Linked DNA regions of Homo sapiens: regions 2, 3 and 4 are each linked to region 1. Evidence: fine-mapped expression QTL. A gene starts in region 1. Each other region holds a variant in brackets. All regions are shown on one strand. Distances are between the middles of the regions. Region 1 holds the start of FTCDNL1 (formiminotransferase cyclodeaminase N-terminal like). Region 2 overlaps LOC124906112 (a long non-coding RNA gene). Region 3 has its middle 21 kb from the start of FTCDNL1. Region 4 overlaps FTCDNL1 (formiminotransferase cyclodeaminase N-terminal like).

What was found. PIP is the estimated chance that this variant, and not a neighbour inherited with it, causes the effect. A credible set is the group of variants that fine-mapping cannot tell apart.
Region 2: its variant is the best candidate, but not a certain one, in a credible set for the expression of FTCDNL1 in prefrontal cortex (BrainSeq, PIP 0.65).
Region 3: its variant is the best candidate, but not a certain one, in a credible set for the expression of FTCDNL1 in whole blood (INTERVAL, PIP 0.83).
Region 4: its variant is the best candidate, but not a certain one, in a credible set for the expression of FTCDNL1 in whole blood (INTERVAL, PIP 0.57).

Annotation. Positions count from the first base shown.
Region 1 is chr2:199,850,094-199,852,784 of GRCh38, forward strand. It overlaps FTCDNL1 (formiminotransferase cyclodeaminase N-terminal like), which reads right to left and starts at 1,099. Exons shown (of 5, transcript NM_001363886.2): 1 at 647-1,099. RefSeq lists a silencer at 880-1,159 and an enhancer at 991-1,565.
Region 2 is chr2:199,990,298-199,992,988 of GRCh38, forward strand. The region is part of intron 2 of LOC124906112 (a long non-coding RNA gene); the gene reads right to left. Among named protein-coding and RNA genes, the nearest start is that of MAIP1, 36 kb to the left of the region's middle. The variant T/G (reference allele first, on the strand shown) is at 1,071.
Region 3 is chr2:199,870,418-199,873,108 of GRCh38, forward strand. No RefSeq gene overlaps it. Among named protein-coding and RNA genes, the nearest start is that of FTCDNL1, 21 kb to the left of the region's middle. The variant C/G (reference allele first, on the strand shown) is at 1,367.
Region 4 is chr2:199,810,692-199,813,382 of GRCh38, forward strand. It overlaps FTCDNL1 (formiminotransferase cyclodeaminase N-terminal like), which reads right to left. Exons shown (of 5, transcript NM_001363886.2): 5 at 1-2,033. The coding sequence ends at 2,014. Among named protein-coding and RNA genes, the nearest start is that of FTCDNL1, 39 kb to the right of the region's middle. The variant AT/A (reference allele first, on the strand shown) is at 1,680.

The sequences.
Region 1 (2,691 bases):
ATCTTAACCTAGAGAGAGCTCAGGCTTCGTAGCTAGCTCAGGTTTGCAGGCAGGTTTTCATATCATGTCCATCATCTCATCACTGAAAATTCATAAAAATTCTGTCATTAGGTTTTTCTAGATATTAATAACATTGTTGTAATAAAGCAACCCAGACCTCTCGTTTCTATGTAAACAAAAAATTGCTTTACACAAGGGGTGTGGGCGTCTTCTGGTTTTCATTTGTTTTCAGTGTGTTTATGCAGCTTAATTGTCTCATCAGGCACTTTCCCAACATAATTATGCTTTTTAACAAATGGTGTTTATGGCAACCCCTAACAGTGCAAAAGAAAGGATTAGTTTCATCCTCTCATTCCACATTTTGATTCCCTGTGGACAGCTAAATCACACAAAGATGGTGTTAGAAAAATTCACCTTCACAGCGAAGCTGAAATGAGCGGCAGTACCAGGCTCAGAAAGTGACCCAAACGCAAGCCCCCCAAAACACTCTGTGTTTGGGACAGGGAGATCCTAGTCCTCCCAGCTCATCCTTCAATTACCATTGGATGACCTCTGGTGATAGATTAAACACTCGGCCGTCCCCCGCCCCCGCGCCTCCCCACCCGCGGAGAACCTAGCCTAGCAAGTGCAAAGTGCAGCAGTTCACCTGCCCCCTGCGCACGCACCCCACCGGCACTTGGAGGCCGCAAGGACGCTCGCCAGGCTGCCGCAACGCGTGCTGGGGCCAGAACCCCGCTGCTGGGATTCCCTGCGCGGTGCCGACTAGGTTCCTGGGTGGAGTGTCCCAGGACCACGTGGGCTGAAAGGGAACCCGAAGTGACTCCCGGCCTCCCCACAGGTCTCGCGGGACGCAGCAGCGGCGAGGGCGCGGGGTTGTGGCGCCTGGGAGCGAGGGGCAGCCGGCGGCTGCGCTGCCCCGGCCGAGCTCTCGAACCAGCGGCCGCGCCTGCCGCTCTGCGGTTTGGGAGGGGAGCGGACCTGCGAGCGCCGAAGGGCGGTGGGGCAGGGCGACCGCCCAGCCCAAGTCGCCGCCGCGCGTGGCCCGCGCGCAGCCTCCGCCGCCGCGCGTGGCCCGCGCGCAGCGTCTGCCGCCGGCTCCGCCTCCCGGACGCCCGGAGCGCGCCCCACCCCAGCCGCACACCGACCGGGCTGGCTCTGCCTCTCCCTCCCTGACCCGGCACCACGTGCCTGGCGTCCTTGAACGCTTCAGATTTTTATCAGTGTTGCCTTTTCGTTTGCTCTTCCGTATCGCCAGACCCTCCACAATTCTCTAGTCAATTAATGACTTTAAAGGGGCATTGGCATCTAATGATCAGGTCTTTGCCTATTGATCATGCACCAGCAGGGGGCTCTTCTCTCGTTTCCTTGGAAGGGACACACGCACTCACACACACCCTTCTGGTAAATCCCCTCCTGGAGGATTAGTGCCCCCCGTGACTGTGAACTGGACCCACCCCGGGACAAAAGCAGTCCTTGCGCATACCCATTTAGTCAAAGTTACAACGAATATGAATCAGGCTTCCGCATTTCCTTTTTTTCTAGGCCACTCAACCTTGAAAACACATTTCGCTTCCAAAAAATCAGGACCTGCTTTTTTTTTTTTCGTGTAGCAAGGATTAAATGTCACCATTTTGATCCAATTTTGTTCCTGTAGTGAAATAATCACTAAATAACTACTTTGACGGAATAAATTAATTTTTAAATCTATTTTTTATTTTCTAATTATAATTTTTAAACACAGATTTGAGGAAATTAACATTTATGTGGACATTTGGTTTCTAGCCTAATGTGGCATAAAAATAAGTAACATAATGAGTGTTAAAAAAAATCAGGTTCATGATGCTTCTCACATCATCATCATTGTACTTAGATGTCACAACAGTATTATGTGCGATTATGTCAGATCCAGCCTTCTCCATCTCGGAGTGTTGGCAGGTAGGAGGGTTGTTGGCAAGAGGAGGGGTGTTAACCTCAGGATCCTGGATCCATTCCAAGGCTGGTAATTACATTCTGCCAGCCAAAATTCATCCCATAATTTTAATTGGATAAATCCTTTCTGGCCTAAGCTACTGCTATGCCTGTCAAACTGTTGCCACATTTCACCCCAGAGGTGTCTGTGTTTTAGTTGCAAGAATCAGTCCCTTTGAGGTTGGCTTATCTGTTTAAATCCTCAAAATGCACTGGGATCCTATGGAATTAAATATATATTTAGGTATTTTTTTCTACTAAATCTGCATAGAAGTGCATAAAGTAGATACATACCCATGTTATTACCTAAAGACCAATACCTATCTAATGTCAGCATTCACTAGATAATTTTGAGAGCTTTTTAATCAGACCAATATTCCTAACTTTCTTCATCTTCTCTTTTGAGAGCTTTTTTGGCCTCTAGCTTTAGCTTCCGTTTTCCAAAAAAAGTAATGTGGTGTCCAAATGTTCCTTCCATGGTAGGGCAAAGAACCAGAATCCCCTGTATTTCACCTTTCCAAACAATCGGATAATGATACTACTTGCCAAATGAGACAGCGTAATAACATTACATCTAATCTTATAATATTTCTCCAGAGAAAACAGTGTGACACCTGGGGGCTTCATGGTTCTAGCTGTAGAAACTGCCAGAAGGAAAGCTTTTCCCCCCACAGCTCCTAATCCTCTCTTTCTCCCGAGAGACTGTTCCTTACGGAGCTACAG
Region 2 (2,691 bases), 140 kb after region 1:
ATCCTTTCCCCCGATCACCCTACTAGGCTTTTTACTTGGTCTACCTGAGTCAAGGTGTAACAGGTCTCAGCATGAAGGGGTGAGGGTGGGGAGGCTGGCAGACCCAATCAAGAATTTTTACTCAGACTCTGAAGGTATGACTGACTGAGAATTGGGTTCACTAGGTTCTGGCCTATACAGGAGCTTTTTTGGAAAACAACCAAAATTACACACACACATAGACACACACATACACACAGACACACATAAACACACACACACACACACACACACACAGTCGTGTGCTGCATAATGACTTTTCAGTCATTTCAGATGGACCACAGATATGATGGCGGTCCCATAGGATTCTAATACTGTTTTAACATACCTTTCCTGTTTAGATAGGTTTAGATACACAAATACTCACCATTGTGCTATAACTGCCTACAGTATTCAGTACAGTAACATGCTGTACAGGTGTGTGGCTTAAGAGCAATAGGCTGTCGTCCCATATAGCCCAGGTGTGTAGTAGGCTATATCATCTAGGTTTGCATAAGTACACTCTATCATGTCCACATGATGACAAAATCACCTACCAACACATTCCTCAGATACTATCCCCATCATTAAGCAACACATGATTATGCATCTGTGTGTGTGTATGTGTGTGTGACTGTTAATGTAGGAACATATAGCAACGTATAGCAATAAACATACTTCCCTCACTTGGGGCATAAAATGTGTTGGTAAAGTGGAGTTTAAAAAAGTGCTCTTTAAAATCACAACAGCCTGAAGCTGCTCTGTTTCTAAGGGACTGGACTATTTCTCTAGGAGTAGATTGCCTTCTATTATTCGAAAGGCGAATATTCCTTTTCTTCTCTTATTCCCTGTTCCCATCTCATCACCCTCTCTCATTTGAAAGAACAGGAACATAGAATTAAACTGCTCTCCAAAAGAAATGATGAAGAGCAAGTGAAAAGGAGAAGAGGGGCTGAGAAATGTCACCAGCAAAAAGTCACCAGAGGGAGGGCAGTGGGGGTGGTAACTAAAGGAATTTTTTTTTTTTTTTTTTTTGAGACAGGGTCTCACAC[T/G]GTCACCCAGACTGGAGTGCAGTGTTGTGATCATAGCTCACTGCAGCCTCAAACTTCTGGGCTCCAGAGATCCTCCTGCTTCAGCCTCCCAAGTAGCTGGGACCACAGGTGCATGACACCATGCCCAGTTCATTTCTTAAAAAATTGTTTGTAGAGATGGGGTCTCACTTTGTTGCCCAGGCTGGCTTCAAATTCCAGCCTCAAGTGATTCCCCTGCCTTGGCCTCCCAAAGTGTTGGGATTACAGGTGTGAGCCACTGAGCCCAGCCCAAAAGGACTGCTAAGATATTTAATATTAAAATTTAAAGTTGTTTATTTCCTAGTGTTGTGGTATAGACACTATGGCCCCTGGCTGCCTCTTTGTCCCCAGCAATGCTCCAACACTTGAAGAAAGACTGGTCTATACTCAAATGTCTGATCGGTGATATCTGGGGCCAATAAAAAAGAGAAAGACTCATCTGGGTCATGTTGGAGCAGAAAGCTAAGAACAGCTGCATGAGATGAGATGTGAATGAGACTGAAAATTTACAGGGGCAGCAAATTAAAACCACAAGTGCTCATGAGAGTTTAAGACACCAGGCATTCACAAACATCCTGAGGAGGGTATTGCACTTTTGCAGGAAAGGGAGTTCTTCTCAACTATATGTAAATAGCAAAGAACGGGTACCTCTGCTGATCATCTGAGTTGCTTAACATTCAAATGACTGTGAAGGTAGGCCCAGACATCTCAAGAATCCACATGCTACTTCATATGTGGAGAACATTTGAGCCATTCATTCATTATTCAATAAGTATAGAGCCACTTCTACATACCAGACCTAGCAAGATATGATGGCAAACAAGATGGCCACAGTCCCTGACTTCATGGAGTTTACATTAGTGAGGGGGGAGTAGGGAGAAAAATGGGGAGAGATGATAAACATTTAAATACATAAATGGTCAGAATAATGATGGATTTTATGCAATATTAAAAATGGGGTGACGTAATAAAAAATACCAAAGTGGGTCATTTTAGGTAGAGTAGTCACTGAGGTCTCTTGAGGAAGTGACTCTTAAGGCCTAAAGACTTAGAAAGAATCCTCCACACAGCAAGCAAAGGGAAAAACACTCCGGGCAGAAGCCATAGCAGGCACAAAGGCCCTGAGGCAGAAAGAGACTGGAAAATCTCTGGAATCCATGGAAGGCCAATGACTAAAGACTAAAACTTCACGAGAAGGTTGGGAAGGGTCATGAGATGAGGTTTAAGGGTTAGACCATGGCCAGTAAAGGCTCTGAAGGCCAAGAAATGAAGTTTGGATGTCCTTTTAAGCCCAATGGGAAGACTAAAGAATTTTAAGCAAACCAATGACATCATCTGGTCCAAAGAATTCCCTGGATTGTCAGTATGGAGATGGTTGGAGGTCTTGACTAGAACAGTTTCAGCAGAGCAAAGGGAATGGAAACTGGATTGGATTGTGCTGTGGAGTGAATAGGAGTGAGAAGGTGGAGACAGTGTGCTCACAATCCTTCTAAGAGGTTTTGAGAAATGGGATAGCGGTTGGAGGGTAACGTGGGGTCAGGAGAGGGTCTTTATTTTTGTTTTGGTGTTTTCCTAAATGGGAAATAATACAGTATGTTTACAT
Region 3 (2,691 bases), 20 kb after region 1:
TGTCTTTTTGGGTTCCCAAATCTAACCCTTCTTTACTTCCCCCACCCCCTAAACGTATAATGGAAATAGATTAAAGACAACAGCAGCTCCTACACCTGTGATGCTGTCCCTCTGAGAAGGAAAAGAAGGAAAAAACATTTAAAACCTGGGAATACATTCTGTCACAACAGAACTAGGTACAGTAGTTCAACTTCTAGAATAGGGAATGTAGGATTTTTCACCTTCATTCTTCAGAAGACATTTTTTTCTAAGTATCTATTATAATAACAAACTGCAATTCCATGACTACTTTCGTTGATGCTTGAACTTCCTCCAAGAGTTCATATTTCCTCACATTAGCCCCAGTTTTATTCAGTATTACAATGTAATTTTTGCATTCCAATCCTAAATCTGCTGGAGTACTTTATACAGACATGGGACATTTAACTTGCTGCAATAGGGTCAGAGACTTGGTTGGAAATGTTGGAAAAAAAAGTCCCTCTGTTGTCTCAATGTATTATTCATCCTGTAAAGCTCTAATTTTATTTTTGACATAGCAAAGCTGTCTCTAAAATGTTACCATGGAACCAGAAATAATTATTTTAGTAATGGACCTATGTCCTTTTCATCTTCTTTAGTTTATTTTAAATTTAAAAAATTTTTGCTTTTTTTAAATTTTAAATTAGAACAGGCAAGGCACAGTGGCTCATGCCCGTAATCCTGGCACTTTGGGAGGCCGAGGCAGGCAGATCACTTGAGCCCAGGAGTTCGAGACCAGCCTGGGCAACATGGTAAAAACCCCTTCTCTACAAAAAGTAGCTGGGCGTGGTGGCGCCTCAGCTACTCAGAAGGCTAAGGCAGGAGGAGATTTTGAGCCCGGGAGGTGAAGGTTTCAGTGAGCCATGATCGTGCCACCGCACTCCAGCCTTGGTGACAAAGTGAGTCTCTGTCTCTAAAATATATTTATATTTTATTTATTTATATGTGGATTTTCTACGGAGAGGTGAGTCAGTATCCTTAACCCCTACACTGTTCAAGGGTCAACTGTATTTCTCCGAAACTATTGCTCCGAGGTAGTCTCATTTATATACGTTAATTATAATTTTTAACCTAAGTAATTTCTGTTTTCTTTTTCTTTTTTTTTCTTTTTTTTTTTTTTTTTTGAGACGGACTTTCGCTCTTGTTACCCAGGCTGGAGTACAATGGCGCAATCTCGGCTCACTGCAAGCTCCGCCACCCTGGTTCACGCCATTCTCCTGCCTCAGCCTCCCGAGTAGCTGGGACTACAGGCGCCCGACACCACGCCCGGCTAATTTTTTGTATTTTTAGTAGAGACGGGGTTTCATCGTGTTAGTCAGGCTGGTCTCGATCTCCTGACCTCGTGAAC[C/G]GCCCGCCTCGGCCTCCCAAAGTGCTGGGATTACAGGCGTGAGCCACCACGTCCGGCCGTAATTTCTATTTTCATAGAAAATTGGGGAGTGGGAGGGAAAAGAGGTGGACAACCATGTTACACACCAGCATCCTTGCAGTCCTGCAGAGTTCATGAAAACGTTTAACACAACTTTCTACAGCCATACTTTATACCAATTTTCAAGGTGGCAAAAATGAACACAGTAAGAAACCCCAAGTTTGTCCTTCTGTGGCATATAAAAATAAGAAGCAAAAGCACAATCTTAAAAGTATGCTTAGTAGGTGCTGTTCATTTCTCTATCAGCCAGGAAGGATACTGGTTTTGAGGCTGATGTACTTATCAAGGACAATAACTGCCATGGCTTGTCAGTGCTTTGATGAAACCTCAGATGCATGACCTTCTGGTCAAACATCTGCAATTTCATATTGTTGGAGCATTGTGTTCCTGGAGGTTGTGGCTCTCTATAAGTTTGCTGTGGTTGAACCAAGAAGGGAAACGTGCAGATTTCTACAAAAATTATGATTCCATGAAAGATTTTAAGGAGATAAGGAAGGCTGGTATCTTTTATAATACAAAATAATTCTGGAATATGAAGAATTTCTTTGAGTTAAATTGCCTAGAAGTTTGTCACTGACTTGTGTTCCTGAACTATGAAACATGACTATGTGGGCTAAGAAATAATTTCTCTCTTGACAAATAAACAATTAACAAGTAAAAAAATAGATAATAATCAATGTTATAGTAACTTACAAATTATCTAGGCATTCAATGAATAGCCATTAATTAATTCAATTTAACATCAGCCTAAGGTTTTAAGTTATCAATAGATCTTGGAAATTATCTCCAAGTTGACATACTATGAAACATAATCACTGCTAAAATAAAATTTTGTTAGAGCAATGAGTCAATTTGGTTGAATACATATATAATTTTTATAACTTTAAATATTAAGTAGAAGTAGTGCTAGCTTATTTGATCAGTAAACCTGTACAAGTTTAGAAAGAATACACCCAAGTAGAATAAAAATTGATGCTTATATTGTACTTAACACTGATAAATCATAGAAGATAGCTGTTTTGTTATTAAACCAAAAATATTAAACTAGCCTTGCTTAGCAAAGACTTACCTAAATTATGTGACTTTGACTTGGTTTTTTTTTTTTTTGAGACGGAGTTTCACTCGTTAGCCAGGCTGACTGGAGTGCAGTGGCACAATCTCTGCTCACCGCAACCTCCGCCTCCTGGGTTCAAGGAATTCTCCTGCCTCAGCCTCCTGAGTAGCTGAGATTACAGGCATGCACCACC
Region 4 (2,691 bases), 39 kb before region 1:
TATAAAAAGCTTACATTTGCAGTTTCCTCATTTTTGGGGAACCTTACATTTCTAAAAGCAAAGTTAAGCAGGGATTGATGAGGAATAAAGGACTGACCTCATCTTCAGCATGTGATCATTCCTTAGCTACTATTTCAACATTATTTTACTGTCATTACTTTTTCTTGCTACTTTCAAACTTATTGCTCCTGATGTCAGCATCCATCAGAGAAATGCCTTCTGGGTTCACTTTTCCCTAGACTACGATGGTTTGGGGGCTTTGTTGCCTAGCCTGGCTACTCTCATACTAATAGATGTTTTACAGAAAATCAGCACACGGAAACCACATTTCATCTTTTTCCCACACATGTACATAATGAAACATTTCAACTCCCGAGGCTGGGCCTCTTCCTCCTGGGAATTCTGCAGGAATGAATCAGATTACAGTATTTCCCCATAATGCTGATTTCATAAAAATTAAATTTCCTAACAGTCAATACATCTCTCTCTCATCATCTCATGTCCCAATCACTTACCCTAAATATCTTTAAGAATTATATCAGTTTTAACATTGCACAGAGTATAATTGGAATTTTTGTCAATCTTAATGTTGCCACTCTTTAACAGAAAACTTCCAAACATTTTTCTCTCATTTACCCCCCAATAAGTCATGTTACAAATAGCCTTATGTCCTAAAATCTAATGTACTTATCCTATTTTGACTCAAGGAATGGTAATATCTTTACCATCGTTCCAACAAATAGTTGGATCACACTCAGGTTTTGCTGAAGAGTATATAACACTGGGGGTTACATCAGCATGACTATTCAAAATCCTTACCAGGCCTGTAGTGCTTCACCATTACGCTTTGCTGTCCCATAGCTTTGATATGCCCAGTCACATTCAGTTATTCACATGCAATTCATCAGCCTGAGGGAGCAAGTCACTTTCAAAGGAAGTTCCTGCATGTGGACTTGGGGCTTTCCCCATGACATGGGTCATTCCATCCCTGTAGCCCTGGGACTTTTCCTGAATCCCTCACCCAGCAAATTCCAAGACATCCTCTTCCATTGCATGTCTAATAACTTCCCCCTGTTAGTAGAATTTCCAAAGTTGATCATTCTTGCTATAAATGAACTCATTGCCTAAGACAAATTATTAAAGATAAAGTAAGCTTAGACATAAGCCCTAAGGACAAGAGTTCAATAAAGAACATGACACGTACACTGTTCAGTGTCCCAACAGCGACTTACTTGATTGAAATGAAACTCTTATTTTTAAAATTCCTTCAAAAGCATAAAGTTCATTTTTTAAGCAAAATAAAACATCAGAAATAACTTTCATATGCTTTTAAATAAAATAAGAGGTAATCACTTAACACAGAATAATCATTTTTCAAACAGACCCTTGTTATATGTATTTTAAATTCTTCTAGTAAGCTTTAGTTACACAATATTTTTGTTTTATTACTATTTCTTATTCAAGTAGTGATAAAACGGAGACAATTAATGAATCTGAGATGTTTCTGACCTAATCAGGGTAGTAGTTTCCTCTCCAAGGTGGGGAAACTTCTCTCCCTTGGAAGGTGAAAGAAGAAAGAAAGAAAAAGAAGAGAAAATTTCTCTTTCTGCCCAAATTCACGCTTTTCCAATTTCCTCCATTTAATCCTTCCAAGTCAAAACCAATACGGTGATCCAATT[AT/A]ACTGAATCAAATTCTGTGTTTAAATCCAGCAGTCCCATTGACCTTATTTAAATGCTGAATTTGATTTTTTATGTTAATTTAAACCTACTAAGAAGGTATTTTAAATGAGAGAGATAATTAATCCCAGCAAATCGTATTTCTAGTTAAATGTCATATAATTAAAGTAATTCCACTTTTTGCTCTAAAATTAGAAACCTGATGTGAAAGTTTGTTTCTCAGTTTGCAGTTTCGCTCCACTCCCGCCTCCCGCAGATTGGCACTCAGCTGCTCTGGTGGCAGCACGGATCCCCTCACTGCAAGGCTGAAATTCCAATTTTCTTCCAACACAACTGTCACAACGCCCTGAAGCAAGCTAAAAACAAGGAAAAAAATCTTTGGTATGATTTCGTTTTCCATGTGTGCTTTAATGAAAAATTTATCATTCTAAATATTGGTGTTTACTCCTAGTTAAATATTTTTTTATCAAAAAGAAAAAGAAACTGAGATTCAGTCGCTATTATTTCACAGAGAAATATAACAGGCCTGATGTCTTCCTGACAATTCTGTTATTTTCTTGTGTGGAAACACTGTATTTATCATATACTGTATGGCTGGTGATTTAGATATTGTTGAGACCTTATGGTGAACTGATATGGATGTAAACTCTTTATGCCAGATTGTTTAAGCAGAAAAAAACCAAATGCACTTAATTAACATCTGATGTGTAGCTTTTGCAAACACAAATGCAATATTTGTGTTTGAGCACTGGCAGTAATGACTGTGAACTATGCTATTAATGTCTGGTTTAAAGATGCTTGTGGTAGGACCATGTCTGGAATAACACAAATAAAAAACTGCATTCAGACAAAACAATAGCGAAGAGCCCATTAGGAAAATGGAAAAGCAGCACTCAGAAGAAACACATGTATTTTTTTTCCCTTTAGATCAAAATTATTCTCAAAAATAGTTCCAGGCACCATCATTTTCAATCAATTAAAGGTGAAAGGATTCTATATATTTTAACTCTACAG